2 separate regions of the Homo sapiens genome follow, and region 2 is linked to region 1. The links come from fine-mapping of genetic effects on gene expression. A gene starts in region 1. The other region holds a variant in brackets. All regions are shown on one strand. Distances are between the middles of the regions.

Region 1 (11,882 bases):
TCCACGTGTACGGAATTCCAGACTCATTAAAGGACTGGAATATCCCTCGGAACCTATAATGTATTTGAGAAACAAGATGCTCAAAACATTTAAATATATAATATGTAATACAGTATACTATAGAATTAAGTGTCAACATGAGTAAAACAGTAAGTTCTGTAATAAATCACAGAAGGAGGGATACAAGTTTGACTGGGATGGTATGGAACTTCTTCTTGAGTTCTTCGCTTTCTTGAGGAAAGCAAAGCAGTAAAAAGAAATGGATGGAGTAGAGAAGGAAGGGACCAATCTCTTAGGTCAAAGAATGGACCTCTTTTGAAGATGAGTTGTTTTCTTAATAAAGACAAACATTGATGTGAACTACAAATAGACACATTTCACGTTTAAAGAACAGATCGTTGAGCAACAAGTGTGGCTGAATAGGAGAGCATTTATTAACAAGGAGAAAAGACATCAGTTGGTAAAAGGTTAAAAAGATGGGCCTGGACCAGACTGCACAGGGTGTTTCTTACTGCCCAGGAAAGGAAACATCGTGGAGTCTTTCAGCAGGAGAATGACAGAAAGGCAGAGTTTAAAACACTCATCTAATAAGGTGGATTTGAGCAGGGAGGGACAACTGGTAAGAATCTGGTTAAGAAGATGTTACTATTTAGTGAGCTAAAGAAGATGACAGCTGATAGTCAAGGATTGTGCCTGTGGAAACAGAAAAGAATAGTTCTAAAACCACTGCATGGGAAAAATTAACATAATCTACTGAATAACTAAATGCAGGGAGCAAAGAACAGAGAAGTATCAAAACACAACAAGGTAACAAGTCTAGCAGTCTAGAAGACTGGAGTATCAGTGACAGAGCAGGGGAGTCAGAAGGGCTGCTTTGGGAGAGAAGAATGAGAGATGGTTTTGGCATATTTTGTATTTGTAGTAGCTCTTTGCTACTTTTGAGTTACAAATCCCTTCCTTTGAGAATCTAATGGAACCAATGGATTCCCTCTTCAGAAAAAATAAATGCATTCATACTTAAACACATGTTGCACAATTTATAATGTACACCCCTGGAATTGGCTGCAAGAGAGCTCTTGATCCAAGCTGGGCCAATCAGAGCCCTTCCTGGAATTTTTGTACTCTATATCCAGAGAATCAAGTCAGTCTCTCCTTACTAGCTAAATCTGTGAATGCTGTTAGCTGATGTATTTTACAACACATGAGCCTGAGAAACAGAGAAAATGCTCAAATGTAGAATGAGAAGAGAGAGAGAGCCTAATACAAAAGGTCAGAAATGAGAGAGAGAACGTGTCCTAATGGCAGCTGAGTTCATGTCTTTATTAAGAAAGCAACTCATCTTTAAAAGAGATCCATTCTTTGACTTAAGAGGTTGTCGTATTCATTCCCTCCTCTGGACTTTCGTTGAGCTCTCAGGGCCCTTCCTTCCTTCTTTCCAACCATTTCTTTTTTCTATTCTGCTTTTCTCAAGAAGCAGTTCTATACCATCCCAGTCAAACTTGTATCCCTCCTTCTTGTAATTAATTACAGAACTTGCTGTTTTATTCATGTTCAGACTTAATTCTATAATATGCTATATTATATATTTAAATGTTTTAAGCATTCTGTTTCTCAAATAGATTATGACAGTTAAGTAGGCAAGACTTTCCTCAAATCAATTCTATATGCCCTATGGCACTTATCACAGCTATATACGAACAGTAGGTGCAAATACTTGTCAAACATTTATAAATGTCAATGTAAAAATATATGAGCATTTGTTTATTCACATTTTACATGCATTTTTCATTTTACAAAAAAGGGATTTACTAGAAACTTCTTTTAAGTAGTAGCTCCTCTATGTGGAAATGTTTTTAAGTGTTCATCTAGAAATATTAAATATTCATCAAAAGGCTGAGGTAGAGTTGGTGGGGAAAATGTTGAAGCTATTGGGTAAGTCATTAATTACAGATCAACAAGAAATGAGATTATGAAAAACAATCAATGACAAAAATCTCATTTACATCAACCTTTCAGAAATGCTTCCATTGTGTGACATGGCTCACTTTTTTTTTTTTTAGTGGGGGGTCTTACTCTGTTGCCCCAGCTGGAGTGCAGTGGTGCAATTATAGCTCACTGTGGCCTCGAACTCCTGGCCTCAAGTGATCCTCCTGTCTCAGTCTTCTGAGACTCTGGGATTACAGGCATGAGCAACTGGCAACCCACATTTAAAAAATATGTAATCTTTGTTCTCCTTTACACTTTATATGGCAATCTCCTCAGGGTAACTGATAGAGAATAAAGTTTATGTCTAGGTTCAGTTTTTGGCTCTACGCATCATTCAGTGTAAAATTGGGCTGGTTATTTAACCTCTCAGAACCCCCCTCATCCAAAAAATTAAGATAATACTTATCTGATAGGATGTTGTGGGAATTAAATGAGGTTGTGCATATAAAGTAGCTGGTGAAATATTTGCTGCCAGTAGGTGATCACTCAGTGGTGGGTGGTATGACTTTTTATTTAGGGAGAGAGAGTTGAGGGAAAAGGGTAGAAAAAGGTGAACCTGATGGTTTACTTAAGAGACATAGAGGGCTGGGCACAGTGGCTCATGCCTGTAATCCCAGCACTTTGGGAGGCTGAGGCAGGCGGATTGCTTGAGCCCAGGAGTTCGAGACCAGCCTGGGCAACATAGCGAGACTCCATCTCTATAACAATATAAAAAATTAGCTGGGCATGGTGACATGCACCTTTGGTCTCAGCTACTCAGGGGGCTGATGTGGAAAGGTCACCTGAGTCTGAGAAATAGAGGCTGCAGTGAGCCATGATGGTGCCACTGCACTCCAGCCTGAGTGATGAGGGTGAGACCCTGTGTCAAAAAAGAAGGAAAGAAAGAAAGGAAGGAAGAGAAGGAAAGAAAGAAAGAAAGAAAGAAAGAAAGAAAGAAAGAAAGAAAGAAAGAAAGAAAGAGAGACTTAGAGGTAGCCAGGGAAGACACCATATGCAGAGGTGGGTGATAGTGCAGAGTTGAAAGGGCAAGAAAGGGCATTTTGAATGATACAGATGATGCTAAAATGTTGGGAGGTATAGGGCAAGGATGGGCTACATTATGAACAATTATTTGCAGGTTCTTATTACACGGCATACGTTACATTTCCAAATTTAAGTTATAGACTAACATCTTTACTAGAATGGATTTTTAGTAGGTAATAAAATTAGTATTCTCAGGATTTCAGGTAATAGTGACAGAAAAGGGAATCAGGGAGAGGAGTTGAGAACAGAGGTGGCTTCTTGCTGCAATGTTGCTCTCTGTCCCTACTATACCCCACTCACAACTCTGTCAGGGACATATTGTTTCCTCCTCAAAGTTAGAGTGTGGCAACAAATTATAAGACTGGACAGTAGAACGACCTGGAAGAGAATTGGCAGAATAGAAGGATGGTGGATGATCAAAAGAGCGAAGCAGTGAGTTCATTCCTGGACACTGCCCACATGAAAATGGGATTTGGGAAAGGTTGGCTAAAAGAAGTGGTGACTGATCTTTGGAAGTATGGTGAGGACAGTGAGTCAGAGTTACTCACTTTATCAGCGCAGGGGACCATGTGGGTTACAGCTATCAGATCTTACTGTGGGTAAATCCAATAAAGAGCTCTGTTGCTAAAATTGAACAATTACAGTGTTTTTCTAATTTCCAGGAAAAATGGGTTTAAAGGTTTTCATTTTGTGAATTATTATTAATTTTTTGGTACTTCCTACCTTGTAAAAAAGTTGCAAATAAATTTAAAGAGAAAAACACAGACATATTATTTCTTAAAAACACATTATTTTTTGGCTGGACACAGTGGTTCACGCCTGTAATCCTGGCACTTTTGGAGGCCAAGTTGGGTGGATCACATGAGGTCAAGAGTTCGAGACCAGCCTGGTCAACATGGCAAAACCCCATCTGTACCTAAAATACAAAAATTAGCCAGGGGTGGTGGTGTGTGCTTGTAATCCCAGCTACTTGGGAAGGAGGCTGAGGCACAAAAATCGCTTGAACTCGGGAGGCGGAGGTTGCAGTGAGCCGAGATGGCACCACTGCACTCCAGCCTGGGTGACAGGTCGAGACTCTATCTCAAAAAAAAAGAACAACAACAACAACAAAAAGCCCCCATTTTTTTATTATGTGATTATGTGGAGATTTGCATAACCATAAAATTGCCAGATTTAGTGCTTGTAAAATTGTGTCAATTCCATATGGCAGAGTTAAATCTATCTGTATTTCATGATGCTCCACGTTGAGCACCATAATTTCTAGAGACTGCCACCTGAACTAGTTTGAAAACCAACATTACACCCCTGACTGCCTTTTGTTATTTCTCAGAGAAGGAATGTTATTAGCCTCAGTGGAACTCGCAGGGAAAGGCTTAGATAGAAAGTAATCTTAAAAAAAAAAAAAAAAAAGACCGAAGGAGAATTAAATAGGGTAAATTCAAGTGTAAGAAGGATAACATAATAGCTCCTGTTTCCTGAGTCCTTATTGTGTAACAGGATTTGTGCTAAGTATTTTCCAAAATTTTGTTTCATCTTTACATCCATCTGTGAGGTAAGTATTAATATCACCCACGTTAGACAGATGAAGAAAGGAAGGTCCGGAGACCTGTTCAAGGTCACACAGCAGGTAAGTGTTGGGTGACACTGAGATTCAAACTGAGGTTTTCCGACTGCAGTGATGATGACATTGTAATGCTTCTTTGTGTGTATGTGATTTTAAAAAACTGACATGAAGTGCACAGATCTTTTTGCATATGTATACACCCGGGTAACCATTAAGATATTGAATATTTCCAGCAAACCAGAAGGCTCTCTCCTGTCCCCTCTCAATCAATTCCCCTGTAAGTAATCACTACCTTGCCTCTAATACCATAGGTAGATGGGTTTTCATTAGATTAATCTAACTTTCTGGAGTTAACACCAAAAGATTCCATATGTCAGCCCTTCACCTTGCCATGTTAGCTGTATTATTCAAAGCTGCTCTAGCTCTGACTTTGCAAGCATTCACTGTAAAGAAGAGCTGTTGGATGGACATGTTCATATCCAGTTTCTTGTATTGTTCTGAAATTAATACTAATTTTTGAAAATCGAAGAAACTCCTGGATGAAGTGCTACAGGATGGGGCAGATTAAAGTGCTGTTATCAAACAAACCTCTCTACCTTGGAAGCGCCACAGACAGAGCTTCCTTGATTGATGTAATTTGGCGCATCTATTTCCAATCATGTCATCTGATTAAGAAGTTGGATGACCACGAAAGGTCATCTCAGTTTATGGAAGGGAAGGCGAGCCGGGCAGAGTTGGTAACGGTGATTGCTTCGCATCATCTTGCAGCACGCGATGATGTTTATGTCCCAAATACCTCCCACAGCCGACTTGCTGTTTTATGATAGGAGGGAAACAGTAGAGGGGAAGAAGATCTAGGTGGAGGGTGAAATATGACCTAACATCGTTCGACGAGGTATTAATGTGGTGGCTTTCCCGCCCTTGTCGACCAGCTCTTAAAACCACGCTACTTCTTAGTCAACCTGGCAGTGACAGAAGCAGCGCCACGACTTTACCTCAGGTTTGCAAGCTGTGGTTGGTGAATTTTCAGCCATTATTCTAAATAACAGTCTCGGTCTCCCCACAAACCCCACTGTTGTTTTGTTTTTCTTTCTCATTCTGATTCTCCCCACAGCCAACCGTGGCCTTTTGAAGTCGTCTACAAACTACCACTGAGAATCCGGGAAAGAATAACTGACACTTGTAGGCTTCGAGGACTCTCAGAGTGATATGTGCCTGAGGTGACCGAAGTGGGGGAGATCTAGGAGAGCATTCCGGTCATCAAAGCAGGAGGACAGGCCCTGAAATGGGCGCACGTGACAGCAGCAGCCACCTCGAGAGTGACATCACCCCTGAGGGCGGAGCCCAACTATGTAGGGCCTTGTCAGTTACCGAGCGTCCTCCCTGCTGCCCCTCCAAATGCCACCCACAAGTCCGAGCCCCCCGGGGATACGAGAAATGCCAGGACATCCCAGAGCGCCAGAGCCAGGGCCCCGTCTCTCCGCGCGGAGGAGGGCTGCGTCCCCACTCCCTCTTCCAGCCGTTCCCCACCCCCAAACTGTGGAAGGGGCGGGGGCGCGCGCGCTCCACCACGCACGCGCCCCCACGCACGCGCGCTCCCTCCGCGCTCGCGCCCCTCCCCACCCCAGCCCGGAGGGGGCGGGGCTGCGGGCGGCCTCAGAGGGTGCGACGCCCCCAGCGCGGCGGCGGCGCTAGCGAGCGGCCGGCGGGGCGCGGGTTGCTGGGCGCGCTGCTCCGGCGGGGCCCGCTGGCACAGCCGCCTCGCGCGAGCCGCCCGCCCGGCGGGGGAAGCTGCGAGCGCTCCGAGCGCCCGGCCTAGGGCCGCTGGCGCTGCCCTCCCGCCGCCACCGCCCTCCGCGCCTCCTTCGGGCGGCCCCGCCCCCATTCCCATCCCCCTCGCGCTCACCTCCCGGCTGTGCCGCGCGCTAGGCGGAGCGAGGCGCCCGCCGCCGCCGAGCCGAGCCGAGGGGCGAGAGCTGGCCCCCGAGCCGCCGCTGACAGGAGCACCGCCGCGGGCTGCGCTCGCCGGCTGCGAGGCCCCGCCGCGCCGTTCCGGGGTGCAGACTCGCCGCGGGGCGTTGGAGGACTGCGAGGTGCTCCGGGAATCGCGGGCGGCGCCGGCGGGCGGCGCGGTCCTCACAGGAGACCCCGGGGACTGGGGCTTGACCCGGAGGTGCAGAGAGCCCCTCAGAGCGGCAGGTAAGGGGCCCGGGGAGCAGGGCGAGGAAAGGTCGCTTCAGTGACAGGGTCGTTCGCCTCCACAGCCTCGGCTCCGGGGAGAGGGGCGGGGGCGAGCGGGGAGACGGCGAAATGGGCAGCGAAGTGCCTCGGTGTCCAAGGCGTGGGGAAGGCTGGCTCCGAATATGACACCAAGGCGGGCTTCAGAGGCGTGTGGGGTCGCCACTTGGCTGTCACCGAAGATGTCATGGAATTTGGTACCTAGAGCGTCTCTGGATGACGGGGACCAAGGATAAGATGCGAGGCGGATTGCTAAACGTGGCAGGGAATGTGGTGCAGAACGAGTTGCAAAATGTGCCCCCAGAATGCAGCATAAAAGTAGTTGCGAAATGTGCCAGGTAAGGCACAGGATGGGCTGGCCTCTGTGGCGTTGAAATTCATGGTCGAAGTGTTATTAGCGATATTAATAATTCCTCTGGGAAAGGAGGTGTAGCATAATAAAAGATTAATAAGGCTCATTGCTAGATATTTTGCCATAGGAAATCGGGAGGAGCTATGATAAGCTATTTTTTTTGAGGTAGAGAAAGTAACCACGTGAAAGAAAAAAAGCAAATTGTGTCTGGCTGTGAGATTGGAAAGAAAAAATAGGGCTAAAATAATTCCAGGTTTTGCCATCAGCGTGTAGAGCATTGGTACAATTGTATCCAGTCTTCATTTCCAGGTGTGGAATGTTTAGAATGGTCTTCACAAAACATAAACAATGATAATTAACATTAGGAAGAAGATTTGGTGTTTCGGGTGTCTTTCACTCTCTTCTCTGCTCCTCTCCAGGAAAAGAAACAAACAAAACCCCAAACGTCTTGACCATAATTATGAGTTAAAGATCATTAGGCAAAGGGAAGTATTTTTCGTATGTGCCCTTTTCCTGATTTTTACACAGGTGAAAATATCTGTAATGAGGAAAACAAAGCAGTGTGGTGAACAAAAGGGATAGATTTTCAGGCATTTTGAGGGGTTGGAGCCAGTATCTATCACAATGGTTAATTATAGAGAACGGCAGTACTAAAATATTCTTGTATGTTCTTGGTGTTGGGATGGTGAAATAAAAAAAAAAAAGAATACAGTAAATTGGCATAAAAAGCAACAACATGGATACTGTCAGTGGAGTGCTTCTTGCAGCATTTCCCAGGTAGATCCTCTTAGGGATGTGAGCACGAAATAAAACGTTAAACATTCTCTTTCTCCCTCTCTCTTGCTCCCCTCTGTATCTAGATATTTATTTATGTCTCTATATAGATATATGTGCATGTATATTATACATACATAAGAAATTACCAACATGCTGCAAAACATTGTGACTTCCATTTAAGAACATCTGTTTCGAGAGGATTGTCAGAACATAGCTGGAATTTCAGAAGTAACAAAAGACAACTCCATGATCTATTTAATGTAACTTATATGTATACATACAATGAGTGTGAATATACTATATAACAAAAGCAGAAATATGGAAATGTGTTCGTTAGAATGTACTTAATTATTGATGAGATTTTAATGTTTTATGTTATAATTCTTGTAAAGAAATTAAATTACATGTGTGAATGCTGTTCTCATTATAGTAATTTGCCAGATAATCTGAAAATTCATACTGATTGGCTTTCCCTTAGATCCAAATTCAGCCATTGAGGGATCATTTGCTTCAAAGACAAAAATAGATTTTCCTTGGTGATTGATTTTGGGTTTTAGTCTTTTCTGTAGATATGTCCCTTACCTTGAGAAGCTGTTGGGGCTGAAGAACAGAGGAAAGGGCCAGAGGAGAATAAAGAGAATTCTGTTGGGTCTTCCTGTTTTGTTCTGACTGTAAGCCATATGTACTGCCACCCCCTACTGTCTGTAGGAAGAGGTGTTACAGAGCCCGATTCTTTTCTTGTTATCACTGCCCCCTTGTGTAAGGGAAGAAATTGATAGTTGCGCTCGGGGAACCAGTCCTCTCAGATTGTTCTTGATAGAGTATTATGTAGATCTGTGAATCACCTATTTTCTTCAGAGTTGAAGGGCTTTAAACTTACTGTTAATCAGGCCTCAGATTTGGTGTCTATTTTAAATATAGGTAGCATTTGATGTTAGGAATTCAGATTGCTTAAGAATGTTTTTGGTACTTTCAGGAAGAGGGTGCAATACAATTACTACTACATTCTTCCCTTATTGTATGCAGGGGATTGGTTCCAGGACCCCCACATATGCCAAAATCCTTGCATGCTCAAATCCCGCAGTTGGTGTATGGAACCATGTATAGGGAAAAGTCGGCCCTCAATATACTCGGTTTTTGCATCCCATGAATACTGTATTGCTTGAAAAAAATCTGCATAGGAGTAGACCAGCACAGTTTAAGCCCATGTTGTTCAAGGGCCAGCTGTACTAGTAGTAACAGCTCACATTTATGTAGCACCTATTCTTTGCCAGTCCCGTTGTACGTTGTTTTAATCAGTTCCAACACCCTATGAGGTATGTGTTGTTATTTCTGTTTTACAGATGAGAATCTGAAACACAGAGAGGTTAAATAACTTGCCCAATACTATATAGCTGAGAAGTAGAAGAGCTAAGTTTCCATTTAGGAATGCTAGCTCCAGAACCTGTGCTCCTCATCAATATGCTATATTGCCCTCTCACTCAAGGTAGTATTGGCAAGGCATAATTAAAATGCATGTGCCCATCATAAAGCAAGTACAATAGATGTGGATAAACCTGGACAACTCACATAGATGTTAAGTCTGCATATATACAAAAGATACAGTTATTTGCAGTGTGAACATTTCTCTTTAGGAATTTGTTTTTTAACTTATTTCTGGGATTATGCGTAGAGGAGTATTAGTACTTTTTATGTGGTTAAGGAAATATTTGTGATGGTGGTTGGTTTGAAGGGAACTTCAGAGGTAAAAAGTTAATTTCAAGTAGTTTAATATAGTGTGTGTGTGTGTGTGTGTATATAAATACACATTCATACACACACACACAGCCTTTTTAAGAGCACCAGTAAACCTTTACTGCTTATTTTCTGTAGGGAAATTAAGGATAAATTACAATATTTTTCTTCCTACTCATATTTTTATGACCTCTTTTTCATTTATATTAAAAACTACCATAATTAGCACAAATGGATTAGATGCCTATGTACATTTTACCTCTAATGTCAACAAATGTTTGTTCAGATTTTTCTCACACTTAAACATTGTTTTATAAGATATTGACCACATATGACAAAGTATTTATAAAAATGTGTAAAATATAAAGACTTCACAATGCAGCCAACACTTACATGCCTTTTACCCAGTTTAAGAAATGGAACATCATCTTTCACAATTATAATAGTTATTTTCTTCTCTTAGCCAAATTGCTTCTGCCATTCTTTTTCAACAGAAACCTTTCCTTATTGTGCTGCGAATTGCATATCTCATGTAACCAAACACTTCCCTTTTTATATACATTTGTTGATATGGGAATTCAATATAATCTACTGCTTATGGCTAAAACTTATTCAGCATATATGCTTACGTAATTTAATATATTTAATAAATTGTCATACACTCAGACTATGCTTTGTATTTGTATTGGTTACTGGTTGGTAGTTCATTTTAGCATACTTCACTTGTAAAACTTAATTTGGTTTGCAAATTAGGATTTTACTAACATTGTTAAACATTAATAGATTATTTCCCTCTTCCATCATGAATTCTTGACTGTCCCACGCTAGCTCTGTTTTTTCTTCTTTTCCCCATAACTGCCTTTGCTCTTTATTTCTTAAGTGAGTATGAATTATTTTGAATGGAGAGGGAAGGAGACCCTAGAAAGGAGTATACTAATCCAGTCATTTCAAAGGGGACTATTAGGGTAGTTGGTACTGATTGAATATATGGTAGAACAAGTGTGCATAAAAGAAATGCATGAAAATCCTCTCCTTGTCATATTTCTTCCTTTTACAGTAGAATTAAAATGAGATCTGAGACACTCTGATTGGGCACACTAGCTGAATATTGTTGGATTGAACTTACCCAGAATCACCAATGTTAGCTGGGATATTTTTGCTGACAGTACAATATGCAGATTTTAATTCAGGGAGCTAGAACAAGCTGTTGCAGAGGGCTGTTTACTCTTCTAGTACTAGTCTAATCAAGGCACCAAATATTATAAAATAGTTTGGAAGCTAGTTCAATTATTTGGACTTTTTTTTTCTTTCTGAATGACTTGAGACTCAGCATTGTTATATTTGCTTAATGTGCCTGTAGTCATCAAATGCTGTGATTATTTTGAGGGAAAGGCACTCTGTAAATATACTATACAAATAAATAGTTTAGACTTCGTTGTAATACCGTGAGAATACCGCTTGGTTTCTTTGAATAGCGTCTTTTGTAGTAACTTGCATTAGATGAAGACCGTTTAAAATGAAAAAAAAAATGAGTTAAGGAGATGTGTGTATGGTGATGCAGAGTGTATATCCCTGATGAGTTTCTTGAAAAGGCCACGGAGAGAAATAGGTTAAAGAAGAGCTTAAAGACTAGAGCTGTGTTTTCCCACTCAGCAGTCTCCTGCTGCCCTTCGCTTTCCCTTTCTTTTCTCTTTTCAAGACAGGATCTCACTATGTCTCCCAGGGTAGGGTGCAGTGGTGTGATCTTAGCTTATTGCAGCCTACGTCTCCTGGGCTCAGGCGATCCTCTCACCTCAGCCTGCTGAGTAGCTGAGACTATAGGCACGTGCCACCATATCCAGCTAATTTTTGTACTTTTTGTAGAGACAGTGTTTCACTCTGTTGTCCAGGCTCATCTCAAACTCCTGGACTCAAGTGATCCACCTGCCTTGGCCTCCCAAAGTGCTGGGATTACAGGTGTGAGCCAACTGTGCCCAGCCAGTTTTCTTTCTTTTAGAGCAGGGGTCTCTAACCCCTGGACCATCATGGCCTGTTTGGAACCAGGGTGCACAGCAGGAGGTGAGTGGCTGGCCAGCCAGCATTACTGTGTGAGCACCTCCTCCTGTCAGATCAGCAGCTTCATTAGATTCTCATAGGAGCTTGAACCCTATTGTGAACTGCTCATGAGAGGGATCCGGGTTGTCCGTCCTTATGAGAATCTAATGCCTG
Region 2 (11,882 bases), 90 kb before region 1:
ACTGTCATTCTTTGGGCCCCCGTATCCTCATGACACCTAGGGTAGGAGTCTAGTGTCCCAAGTGTCCTATTCATAGCATAGGGTCGATAATGTTAAGGCGTATCTGTCCTGTTCTGTTTCCCATAGGAAGCCTAGTGAAACCTGTACTTCGTATTTTAAGTTCCGTATCTTTATATTTGCCTCACATTTTTCACTCCTATTATCTGAAGTCTGTTTCTAATTTCTGACAGAATTGTAATGGCTTATTGTGTGCCTTGCTCTGCATGACATGCCAATTTCATTTTGGAGTCACGGCTATTGTCTTTTTCTCTGCTAATCTCTCTTGTTTTGCAAAACTCCAATAGAACGTGTGAACATAGAGAGTTGCCCTTGTGCCTGATCTTGGCTCTGTGTGGCCCCCAAACAGGGGTGGATGATAGACAGACAGCCTGTCTGCCACCCGAAGCATCTTTTCTTGCTTAAAAATTTGCTTTCCAGATTGCAGACTCCTTTCCAACTCCAGCAAAGCCTGGAACACATTAAATAAAAGCAGAGCTGAAATTGGATGGAATGTTTCAGCCACTTAGATTCAGACCTCTCTGGGGGAAGCCCATGGGGAAGGGACCGGGACATGCCCCCATGGATAACACAGGGGAAGAGGGCTTCTATGCTGTTCTCATACCATTCAAGCCTTAAACAGAGGCAACATATTTTTCTTAAGCAGGGCCTGTAACCCAGGATCCATCACTTATGTATGGTGTCCATGGCAACCAGGCAATGGTATGGGATCCCTTCTCACTGGGGAATTCCTTTTATGGCTCATTTCCGAAACCAGCATGGCCAGTACAGGAGTCTGCCGTTTCCCAGTTGCTTAGCAACCAGCTCCTATGCTCTAGTCACTAGAAAAAGCCGACAGTTTTTTTTTTTTAAGAAAGTGTTTGTCATCAGAATCATATGTTACATTCTCTCTACTTTGTCTCTTTAGAATAAAATAATTAGTGTGTGATAAGGATGCAGAAAGGGCAACTGCTCCCTGTTGTTAAAGCCTCTGCTGTTCCTGGCGGGCTGTTTTAGGCAAGGAGAGAGAGAGGAAAATGTTAGCATGCTTTCGGTTGGTAATTAAGCAGCTCGAGCCATCTGCACGTGGAAAGCTCTACATTTTTAACGTCTCGTGGGGGCATCAAGTAAGTACAGGGCCAGCAATCTGTGTGCTACATCCCTTCCCAAACCAGAAAATCCAGACTCCACCCACAGGTGTCATCTCTCCTCGGCTTCCATTCCTTAGGGGGTTGGGGAGGCCGGGATGGGGTGAATTGGCTTGTTGAGTTTTAGGTACAAGGGCACAAAGATCATGCAGCACCCCCTCTACTGTTACAGCAGTGGTTTTCAACTAGAGGTGATTTTGCCCCCCAGGTGACCTTTGGCAAGGCCTGCAGACATTTTTGGTTGTCACAACTGATGGGGAGGGGGATGTTACCAATATCTGTCTAGTGGGCAGAGACCCGGGGATGTTGCTAAACATCCTACAATGCAAAGTGTGGCCTCCAACAACAGAGAAGTGTCTTGCCCCTGATGTCAATATCCCAAAGTGGAGAAATCCCAAGTTAGAGAAATCAGAATATCTGTCTTGTTAAAAAAAAAAAAAAAAAAAAGCTAGCATGACAGCTGACGAGAAAAAATTTTCACAAGGTAAAGGGTGGGACAGATCAAAACCCATTCAACAGATATCATTCCAACCGAAATTTCTGTATAGCAAGGAACTCCTGGGCCCCCACCAGCAAAAGTGTTGGGCAGAGCACCCTTTGGAGTTGTGGCAATGGAAGGAATTTGTAAGCCGACCTTCCTAGAAGGAAGGAGAGCAGAGTTGGAATGCTCTGTCCTGGCTTCCAAGGGACTTTGGCATGAGACAGATCCAGCTTCACATTCTGGGTCTGCTGTCTATGCACTATGGGTTCTTAGGTATTTCACATAATCTCTCTGGGACTCGGTCTTCTCAACTCTAGAATGGGAATCTAAGTGAGTATTATGAGAATTACATGGCGGAACGTGTGAAATGCCTGACCCCTATTGGGCCCTGGATATTAGCTCCTCCCATTTCCCCTCTTGTTTCAGCCTCAGGAACCCAGCTGCCCCCTCTCCATTGCTGGGTACTTTGGACTTTTGAGGAATATGAACAAATGTACTGGTCCTATAAATGACTGAGGTCAGTTTATTCAGCAACGAGCAAAGGACAAAAGCACCATTTTTGGAATTTTGGCTGGTAGCCTTAGACTAAATTTAGGCATGAGGGACAGAAAAACCCAAGAAACGGGTGAGATGAGAGGCAGTATTGCATTGATCAAAAGTATGGCAGGCCAGGTGCGGTGGCTCATGCCTGTAATCGCAGCACTTTGGGAGGCAGAGGTATGTGGATCACCTGAGGTCAGGAGTTCGAGACCAGCCTGGCCAACATGGTGAAACCCCATCTGTACTAAAAATACAAAAATTAGCTGGGCGTGGTGGCAAACGCCTGTAATCCCAGCTACTCAGGAGGCTGAGGGAGGAGAATCACTTGAAACCGGGAGGTGGAGGTTGCAGTGAGCTGAGATTGTGCCACTGCACTCCAGCCTGGGTGACAGAGCAAGACTCTGTCTCAATAATAATGATGATAATAATAATAATAATAAAAAGAGAATGCACATGGCCGTGCCTGATGGCTCATGCCTGTTAAATGCGGCACTTTGGGAGGCCAAGGCAAGTGGATTGCCTGAGTCCAAGAGTTTGAGACCAGCCTGGGCAACGTGACGAAACCTCGACTCTACTGAAAATGCAAAAAATTAGCCAGGCGTGGTGGCACATGCCTGTAGTCCCAGTAACTCAGGAGGCTGAGGTGGGAGAATCACCTGAGCCTGGGAAGTCCAGGCTGCAATGAGCCGTGATCATGCCATTGCGCTCCAGCCTGGGCACAGGTTTCAAGTCCAGCTCCCCATTTACTGGCTGTGTGTGACCTCAAGCGAGTGACTTGGCTGAGCTTCACTTTCTCATCTATGAAATGGGGTTATTATTATATCGTCTAGTACTATGTAAAGATAAAAGATAATGTATATAAAAGTGCCTAGCCTGGTGCCTAATATTAGGTAGGCACCTGATAACTGATAGCATGCATATTCATATAAACAATCTTCCTTTTTTTTTTCTTTTGAGATAGAGTCACACTCTGTTGCCATGCTAGAGTGCAGTAGTGCAATCTCAGCTCACTGCAACCTCCACCTCCTGGGTTCAAACGATTCTCCTGCCTCAGCCTCCTGAGTAGCTGGGATTACAGGCGTTTGCCACCACGCCTGGCTAATTTTTTTTTTTTTTTGAGATGGAGTCTTGCTCTGTCACCCAGGCTGGAGTACAGTGGCATGATCTCTGCTCACTTCAACCTCTGCCTCCTGGGTTCAACCAGTTCTCCTGCCTCAGCCTCCTGAGTAGCTGGGGCTACAGGTGCCCGCCACACGCCTGGCTAGTTTTTCGTATTTTTAGTAGGGATGGGGTTTCACCATGTTAGCCAGGATGGTTTCAATCTCCTGACCTCATGATCCTCCCTCCTCACCCTCCCAAAGTGCTGGGATTACAGGCATGAGCCACCGTGCCCGGCCTTTTTTTTTTGTATTTTTAGTAGAGACGGGGTTTTACCATGTTGGCCAGGTTGGTCTCAAGCTCCTGACCTCAAGTGATCTGCCCACGTCGGCTTCCCAAAGTGCTGGGATTACAGGCGTGAGTCACTGCACCTGGCCTGCTTGTTTTTTTTTTAAGTAAAACTGTCGTGCGTCGTCCAACCCCACATCTTCACTGGTGCTGACAGTGAGGCTAAGGGCTGTGTATTAGGAAGAATGTCCTCCCTTATCCCATCTAAAACAGATTTCCCTCAGTATGATATGCTAGTGCCAGCCATCACAACGTTATGTAAGTAATTTTTGAAGCTATTTCTGTTTTTAGCCTATTCTACCTCTTGGGGGGTAATGAGTTCCATACATTTAGCAACCATTTTTAACTTGCTTGAAATCTTGAGAAAATCTCAAGAAACCTCTTCTTTAAAAAAATTGTTTAAATTGACAAATAGTAGTTGTTCGTATTCATGGGGTAGCTAGTGATGTTTTGATACACATGATGTATAATGATCAGATCAGGGTAATTAACATATTCATAATCTCAAACATTTATCATTTCTCTATGTTGGTAACATTCAGTATCCTCCCTCTCCCTATTTGAAACTGTATAATATATTATTGTTAACTATAGCCATCTTACAATGATGTAGAACAATAGAACTTACTCCTCCTACCTAGCTGTAATTTTGTATCCTTTATCAAATCTCTCCCTACCCCTCCCTTCCTCCTCCCCTTCCTGTCCTCTAGTATTCTCTGTTCTACTTTTTACTTCTGTGAGATCAACTTTTTTTTAGCTTCCACATATGAGTGAGACCATGCAGCGTCTTCATTCTAATAAGCTGGGGTTTGGTCTATTTTCACATTATCTGTACTTTTCATAATTCTTGAAACTGCAGTATATCCTGTCAACCTCCAGCCTTCACCCTGACCTCATACAGAAGCCCCTCCAGCCCCTTAATCACTTGAAATGCTTTGTGAACTCCCTGCTTTCTTTCTTGAAATGTATCAACCAGAACTGCACATTCCAGTCTGTGTTAGAAACAAAGGTTAGCCGGGCATGGTGGCAGGCACCTGTAGTCCCAGCTACTGGGGAGGCTGAGACAGGAGAATTGCTTGAACCCGGGAGGCGGAGGTTGCACTGAGCCGAGATTGTGCCACTGCACTCCAGCCTGGGCGACAGTGCAAGAGTCCGTCTCAAAAAAAAAAAAAAAAAGAAACAAAGGTAAAGTGATGTTTTCTTTCCCTACAACCCCCCCTACCTCACCCCCTTACTTTTTCTAACAATTTCCCAAACTTGGTTCGCCTTTGGGCGCCAGAGCACTTTCCTGAGCACTCTGCAATGAGTCCCAAGTCCCTTTCCTGGGTCACAATCGTTGGTTCATAGTGGCAGCAGCTCGTCCTCTATAGTTTGTACTTTTTCTCCTTGTCACTCTTATTTCCCACTGAAGTATATCTGCCAAAGTTGTGCCCACTCACCCAACCTCATTGCACCTCACCAGTTGGCTTCTGTCTGTATTTTTTTGTTTGTTTTTTGTTTTTCGTTTTTTTTTAGACAGAGTCTCACTCACTTGGTCGTCCAGGCTGAAGTGCAGTGGCACGATCTCGGCTCACTGCAACCTCTGCTTCCTGGGTTCAGGTGAGTCTCCTGACTCAGCCTCCCGAGTAGCTGTCATTACAGCTGTGCACCACCATGCCCAGCTAATTTCTGTATTTTTAATAGAGACGGGGTTTCACCATGTTGGCCAGGCTGGTCTCGAACTCCTGACCTCAAATGATCCACCTGCCTCGGGCCCCCAAAGTGCTGGGATTACAGGTGTGAGCCACTGCGCCTGGCCTCACAGTCGGCTTCTTGTTGAACAGACATCTAAAAGCCTAGAGATTACACTCCTAAATTGTTGTGTGATCCCACCCGATTTTACCCAGTTGACTGAAGCTCTTTGGAAGTGCGGCTCTAAATATGTCATTGCTAAAATTTTTTCCTTCCACAGGGGATAATTAAATCATGTCAAATATAGAAGCGACTTGCTCATCCCTCCCAAGCAGATTTATGGAAACTCACCTGGAAACCACCACAACCTGGAAAGGTGGCAGGAGGATGTTTATCAGGCACGTATGAGCCCAGCTTCTCAGAAGATAGACACAGGTGCCTTTGTCTCTGAACAAGTGGCAGGAGCTGGAGCCACAGTCACACTGGGGTTCTGAGTGGCTTGAGACGGGACATTGTGAGGTTTACCAGGAGGACCAAAAGCACTCAAAGTATGTGGAGGTCAGAGCAGTGGCAAAGAAGGAGTCCAGGCGGGCTGGGGAGGGGTCAAGGGGCATCAGGCAGCACGTCTGGGAGCCAGGATGACAGATGGGAGATTCAAAACAGGGCACCACTAGAAGCCTGAAAGGAAGGCAAGGTTTTATCAGGGTAGGAACTGAGCTCTGGAGAAAGAACAGGACAACTGGCCATGGCTGAAAAGGGGGCACAGGGTCAGCAAGTTGAAGACAGATCCTTATGATAATGAACCAGGGTGGAAACAGGAAAAGAGGGTTTGATGCTTTCTTTGGGGCAAACGATTCTCTCCCTATTCCTGCAACAATAGCGCAGGTTCCTAGATCAGTCATTTGGTCCATTAGCAGCTAATGCTGGTTGTGGGTATCACACCAGTAGATGGCCATCACCTTCATAAAGCTCCTGCACAATGCTCAGCTCGTGAGTGCTCCAAGGAAAACATTTCTGTGGTGACTGTGTTTGGGATTTTTGCAAACTACAGGTCCTTCTTGGGGATTCACAGTGTACATTAGCTCTGAATGTGTACAGCGTGCATTTTAAACACTCTGCCAACTCCTGAGGTATAGAAATCTGTTTCATTGTTTTTAATTTAATGTTTCTCAAATGTAGTTGACACCCGGGTCCAACAGGATCCTTTTGCTATATAACAACCCTGAACAT[T/C]CTGTGGACACACCTTGAGAAACATTGTTCTAGAACATTCCTAATCTGGTGTTCCCAGGCCCTTCACAGCCTGGGCCTGCCCTTGTTTCCCAACTTTTCCTTCCTTTATTTTCTGACATTCCAGCCACATTAAGCTCTTCCCTTGCACACGCTCCTGTTGCACATTTCCTTCTTTCTTGCTATAGCAGGTGATTCATCATCTGCCCAAAAATGGGAAAAAAGCTGAGCCCTGCTCACTTCACCTCACTGTCACCCTCATGTCTGTCTATCTTTTGAGACCCACCTCAAAAGGAGCCCTGGATTCATTCTCTGCCCCATCTCTGCTCCTGCCTTCCTGTTCCTATAAATAATCCTTTGCCGCCTCTGATCCCTTCTGTCCTGGTATCTGTTACTGTCAGGGCACTTCACATGTTTTACTTTGTATAAGGCCATTTATGCCTTTTTTATTCAAACAGAATCCACGTCTCACTTTTGTACCCACCCCCCTACCAACAGAACACAGCATATTTGTAGGATTGTTAGTGGGAGCAGAAAATATGATGCCAAAACTTCTGAGGTTGGGGTAAGTTCTCTTCTCAACATTCAGGCCAGAGTTGGCAAATACCTGGCTCACCTGCTGCCAACCTGTACTCTCTCACTAATGGCACAGACTCATCAGAGAAGGCCCCAGGAGCTTCTCAACACAGTGCTCCCAGCAGTCATGATCAATGGGTTAGAAAAGGCATGAGAGAGGAAATCTGTTATCCCTGATTTAGACCTTTTGCCAAAGTGAAAGTTAGGAGAATTTAGTAAGCTGAATGTGGGAGCTGTTAATGCTACAGACCAATGACTGTCCTCTAACAGAACAGAGCAATTAGCAAAAGTATTCATTATACTTTCATGTTCATGTCTAGTCTCAAGGCTAATTATTTGTATAATTAAGATGTTACCAAATGCAAACAATTGATGAGCCTGATTTCTTGGAATGAAACATGAGACTTATGAAATGTAAATAGCTGTGAATCACTAACAGCTTTCCTTTACTTAGGCATTCTACCAAGGCATAGCCCTGTTACATTAAAGAAACAATGGAAGTATAATCCCATTCATATTTTTTAGATGACAAAACAATATGACGTATGAATTTAAATCATAGAAAAAGCACAGGTTTTAATTCTCACTCCACCATTTTCTAGCTGTGTGCCCTTGGCTGTGTTACATAAGCTCAATTTACTCGTGTTACTTACAGAGAGATGTCAGTTTCCACATTCAGAAAATGGGTGTAATAGCCCCTAGTTCAGAGGACTGCTGTGACAATCAAATGAGTTAACATGTGGAAAGAGTGCACAATCAATGTGAGCCATTGTTTTCATTATTCTACTTGTATCTACAGATTATACTTTGACAATGATCGCTTGGATTTTTTACAGTATGTAAAAAACATTAGAGAGAAATGGAATGTATATAGATGTCTCGCTATAACACCATCTGTGTGTTACTGAAAAGCTTCCATGGTCTAAAAATGGCCACAAGCCCCAAAATAACAGGGTTGGTGGGGAAAAAAAAATAGGGTTGGGACAGTCTACTCAAAACCTGGCTGGGTGCAGTGGCTTACGCCTATAATCCCAGCACCTTGGGAGGGTGAGGCCAGAAGATTTCTTGGGCCCAGGAGTTCAAGACCAGCCTGGGCAACATCATGAGACCCTGTCTACACACACACACACACACACACACACACACACACACACACACACACAGACACACACACAATTAGCCAGGCATGGTGGCACACACTTGCAGTCCCAGCTACCCAGGAGGCTAAGGCAGGAAGATTGCTTGAGCCAGGGGAGGTTGAGGCTGCAGTGAGCTGTGATTACACTACTACGCTTCAGCCTGGATGACAGAGCAAGGCCCTGTCTCAAAAACAAAACAAAATGAAAAACAAAAACAACAACAAAAAAACTATGCAATTGTAACCAGAGCACTCACAAAAACAATGTCAAAACTAATGAAACATTACCCCAGTAAGCCTCAGCTTTCACAAACATTTGCACACCGCATCCCAGCCTTGAACCCTAGGGCTCCTCCTGCTGCTTTGAGATATAGGCCCTGGAGGGCATTTGCTTCTAATAGGGACCAGTTTTATCAAAATTAAACATTTGATTTAAAGAGCGGTGTTCTTCGCTAACCCATCCTTCTAATACAAAGAGAAACGTTTTCACTGCTTCTTCAACAGCACCCTCAGTTTTTCCAGAAACTTGACAAGAGAACAGCATAGTGGTTCCCAAGTCACTAAATCAGTCAGTCCCTGCAGCTAAAGAAGGCAGCTGTGTGTATTCTCAGCTTTTTCTTAAGGCCTCCATAGAGTGCTAAGGTTTCCTCTTATTAAAGAGGTAGTTATTGTGAGAAAGCTGGCTCCTGGCTTCAAAACATTTACATGCTGGGGGAAAAAAGTGCATAGGAACCCACATGACATCTGTGTTATACCAATTCCCCTGTTTACTCATGGCTTGTGAGGTCGCTCATATATAAGAAACATTTGTAGCAACAACAGTTTATATTGAATATCTCCAATCTGCTAGTTGATGTGGTAAGAACTAAATAGAAGCCATGTGATTTAATCTGCACATTAGTCGAGTGTGGTAGAGGTAAGGTATCCTTACCTTTGAGGCTTAGAGACATTAAATAACTTGCCTGAGATTACAAGTTTTTAAGTAGTAAAGCCAAAATTCCTACCTGGAATCTAACGTCAAACCTCATGCCTTTTGAGATCACACTATCCCTACTAAGGATGGCTGGAGGCAGGAAAGAAGACCGACATCCCTGGCCATGGTAATGAGTGAAAGCCTGATTCCTAACCACAAGTCACTAACATTTAATTGCATTTAATCCTCACAACAACCCTGCTACACAGTTATTATTACCACCAATTTATCGATGAGGAAACTGAAGCTCATTCATCAAAAGACAAGCCACCCAATTTTTAAAAATAGACTGAAGATTTGAAGGAAGAAACGTCCATTAGAAAACATGCAAATCAAAATCACAGTAAGATGGCACTTGACACCCACTAGACGGGTGGTGATTATAATAAAAAAGACATAATAACAAGTGTCGGTAGTTGGTGATGATGTGGAGAAATTGGAACCCTCGTACACTGCTGGTAGGAATGTAAAATGGTGCAGCCACTTTGGAAAACAATCTTTCAGTTCCTCAAACAACTAAACAGAGTTATCATATGATCCAGCAATTCTGCTCTAGATATATACACAGAGAAATGATAACATATCTACACACAAAAAGGTACATGAACATTAATAGCAGCATTATCCATAAAACCAAGTGGAAACCAAAATTTCCATCGACTGATGAATGGATAAATAAAATTATATCTGTTTAATTAAATATTTGGCAAGAAAGAAATTAAATGCTGATACATACTACAATCTGGATGAACCTTGGAAACTTTATGCTAAATGAAAGAAGCCAGCCACAAAGGACCACATATTGTACGATTCTATTTTTTGAAATGTCCAGAATGGGCAAGTATATAGAGACAGAAAATAGAATTGTGGTTGCTTAGGGGTGAGGATGATGAAGGGTTTGTGGGGCAATGGCTACGGAGTACAGGGTTTCTTTTGGAGTGATGAAAATGTTCCAACGTTGATTGTAATAATGGATATACAACTCTGTGAATATACCAAAAGCCTTCGAAGTGTACACTTTAAATGGGTGAATTGTGTGGTAATTGAATTATATCTCAATAAAGCTGTTTTTAAAAAAAAAATCTTTAAAAGATTTGAACAGGCACTTCCAAAAGGAAGCCATCCAGATGGCCATAAGGATATTTTTTTAAAGTGTTCAACATCATTAATTATCAGGGAAACACAAATTAGAACCACAGCAGGCTATCTCTACACAACTACTAGGATGGCTAAAATTACAAACACAAAATTTTGGCAAGGATATGGAGTGAAAGAGTTAAAAATATATTACCCTGGCATATTAACTATTTAAGCTAAAGGCACTTGAAAAATAGCAGATGCAAAAAAGAAAAAAAATCACTTTGACCTTCATGCTGTTTCTTAAAAGCAGAAGATGAAATTCCTGTGTGAAGATGCCCTCCCTATTCTAGGAGAAGAGGCAACAGCCTTATCTTCAAGGACAAGAAGTAGAGACCAAGAGAATTCTGTACAGACCTTGTCAAAATAACTCTTATCATTTAACCCTCCCCACATAATTTAGTTGCTTCTTCACAACTAACTATTGTCCAGTTCAGTAGATAAGTAACTGACTCTAACTTCTTCCTCAGGTCTTTGTTTCTTTCTGAGGACTCTTGTGCCACATAAAACTTTTATTATGCCTTTCTCCTCTTTATCCATCTTAAGTCAGTTTAATTCTCAGACCCAACAGGGACCCTAAGAGGATGGGGGTAGAGATTTTCTGCTCCTGCAGAAGCAACTGGAACTCTCATACATTGTTGATAGAAGTGTGAAATGGTACAACCACTTTGGAAAACAGTAGTAGTTTCTCATAAATTTGAACGTGCACCTGCCCTATGGCCTTAGTTTCCAATTCCACACCTAGGTATTTGCCCAACAGAAATGAAAGTGGATGTCCACAAAAGTCTTGCACAAGGATATTTATAGCAGCTTTATTCCTAATAGCCAAGAGCTGGAACCAGACTCTTAGTCTGTTTTATGCTGCTATAATAGAATACCTGAGACTGGGTAATTGATTATGAACAGAAATTTATTTGGCTCATGATTCTGGAGGCTGAGAAATCCCAGAGCATGGTGCCAGTATCTGACAAGGGCCTTTGTGCTCCATCATCCTATGGCAGAAGCAGAAGGGAAAGAGAGCAAGCGAGCAAGAGAGGGCTAAACTCACTTTTGTAGCAACCCACCCTTGTGATAACGAACCCACTGCTGAGATAATGGCATTAATCCATCATGTCCACCCTCTGCCCTCATGGCCTAATCACCTCTTAACAGTCCCACTTCTTAATACCATCACAATGGCAATTACATTTCAAAATGAATTTTGAAGGGGACATTCAAATCATAGCACAGTCCAATTATCCATCAATAGGAGAATGGATTTTTAATACTTTGGTATATTCACGCAATGGAAGAACACTGAACAATAAAATGGAACAAATTACTGATACATGCAAAATCACGGATGCATCTTTCACACATTCTGGGCACATAAGCCTGACACAAAAGACTATATATTATATGGCTCCATTTATGTGAAACTCTAAAACATGCACAAGTAATCTATGGTGCAAAAATGAGAAGGTAGTAATCTGAAAGGCAATAGGATGGACTGGGAAGAGACCTACTGGA

Which allele goes with the higher level. Positions count from the first base shown, and alleles are read on the strand shown. Sizes are in standard deviations (SD) of each study's normalised expression.
With allele T in place of C in region 2, the expression in monocytes after R848 of the gene that starts at base 6,258 in region 1 is higher (large effect, 0.89 SD a copy in Quach 2016).

What was found. PIP is the estimated chance that this variant, and not a neighbour inherited with it, causes the effect.
Region 2: its variant is fine-mapped to the expression of TANC2 in monocytes after R848 (Quach 2016, PIP 0.92).

Annotation. Positions count from the first base shown.
Region 1 is chr17:62,959,978-62,971,859 of GRCh38, forward strand. TANC2 (tetratricopeptide repeat, ankyrin repeat and coiled-coil containing 2) reads left to right here and starts at 6,258. Exons shown (of 28, transcript NM_001394998.1): 1 at 6,258-6,772. RefSeq lists a silencer at 6,145-6,334.
Region 2 is chr17:62,869,596-62,881,477 of GRCh38, forward strand. No RefSeq gene overlaps it. Among named protein-coding and RNA genes, the nearest start is that of MARCHF10-DT, 67 kb to the left of the region's middle. The variant T/C (reference allele first, on the strand shown) is at 6,553.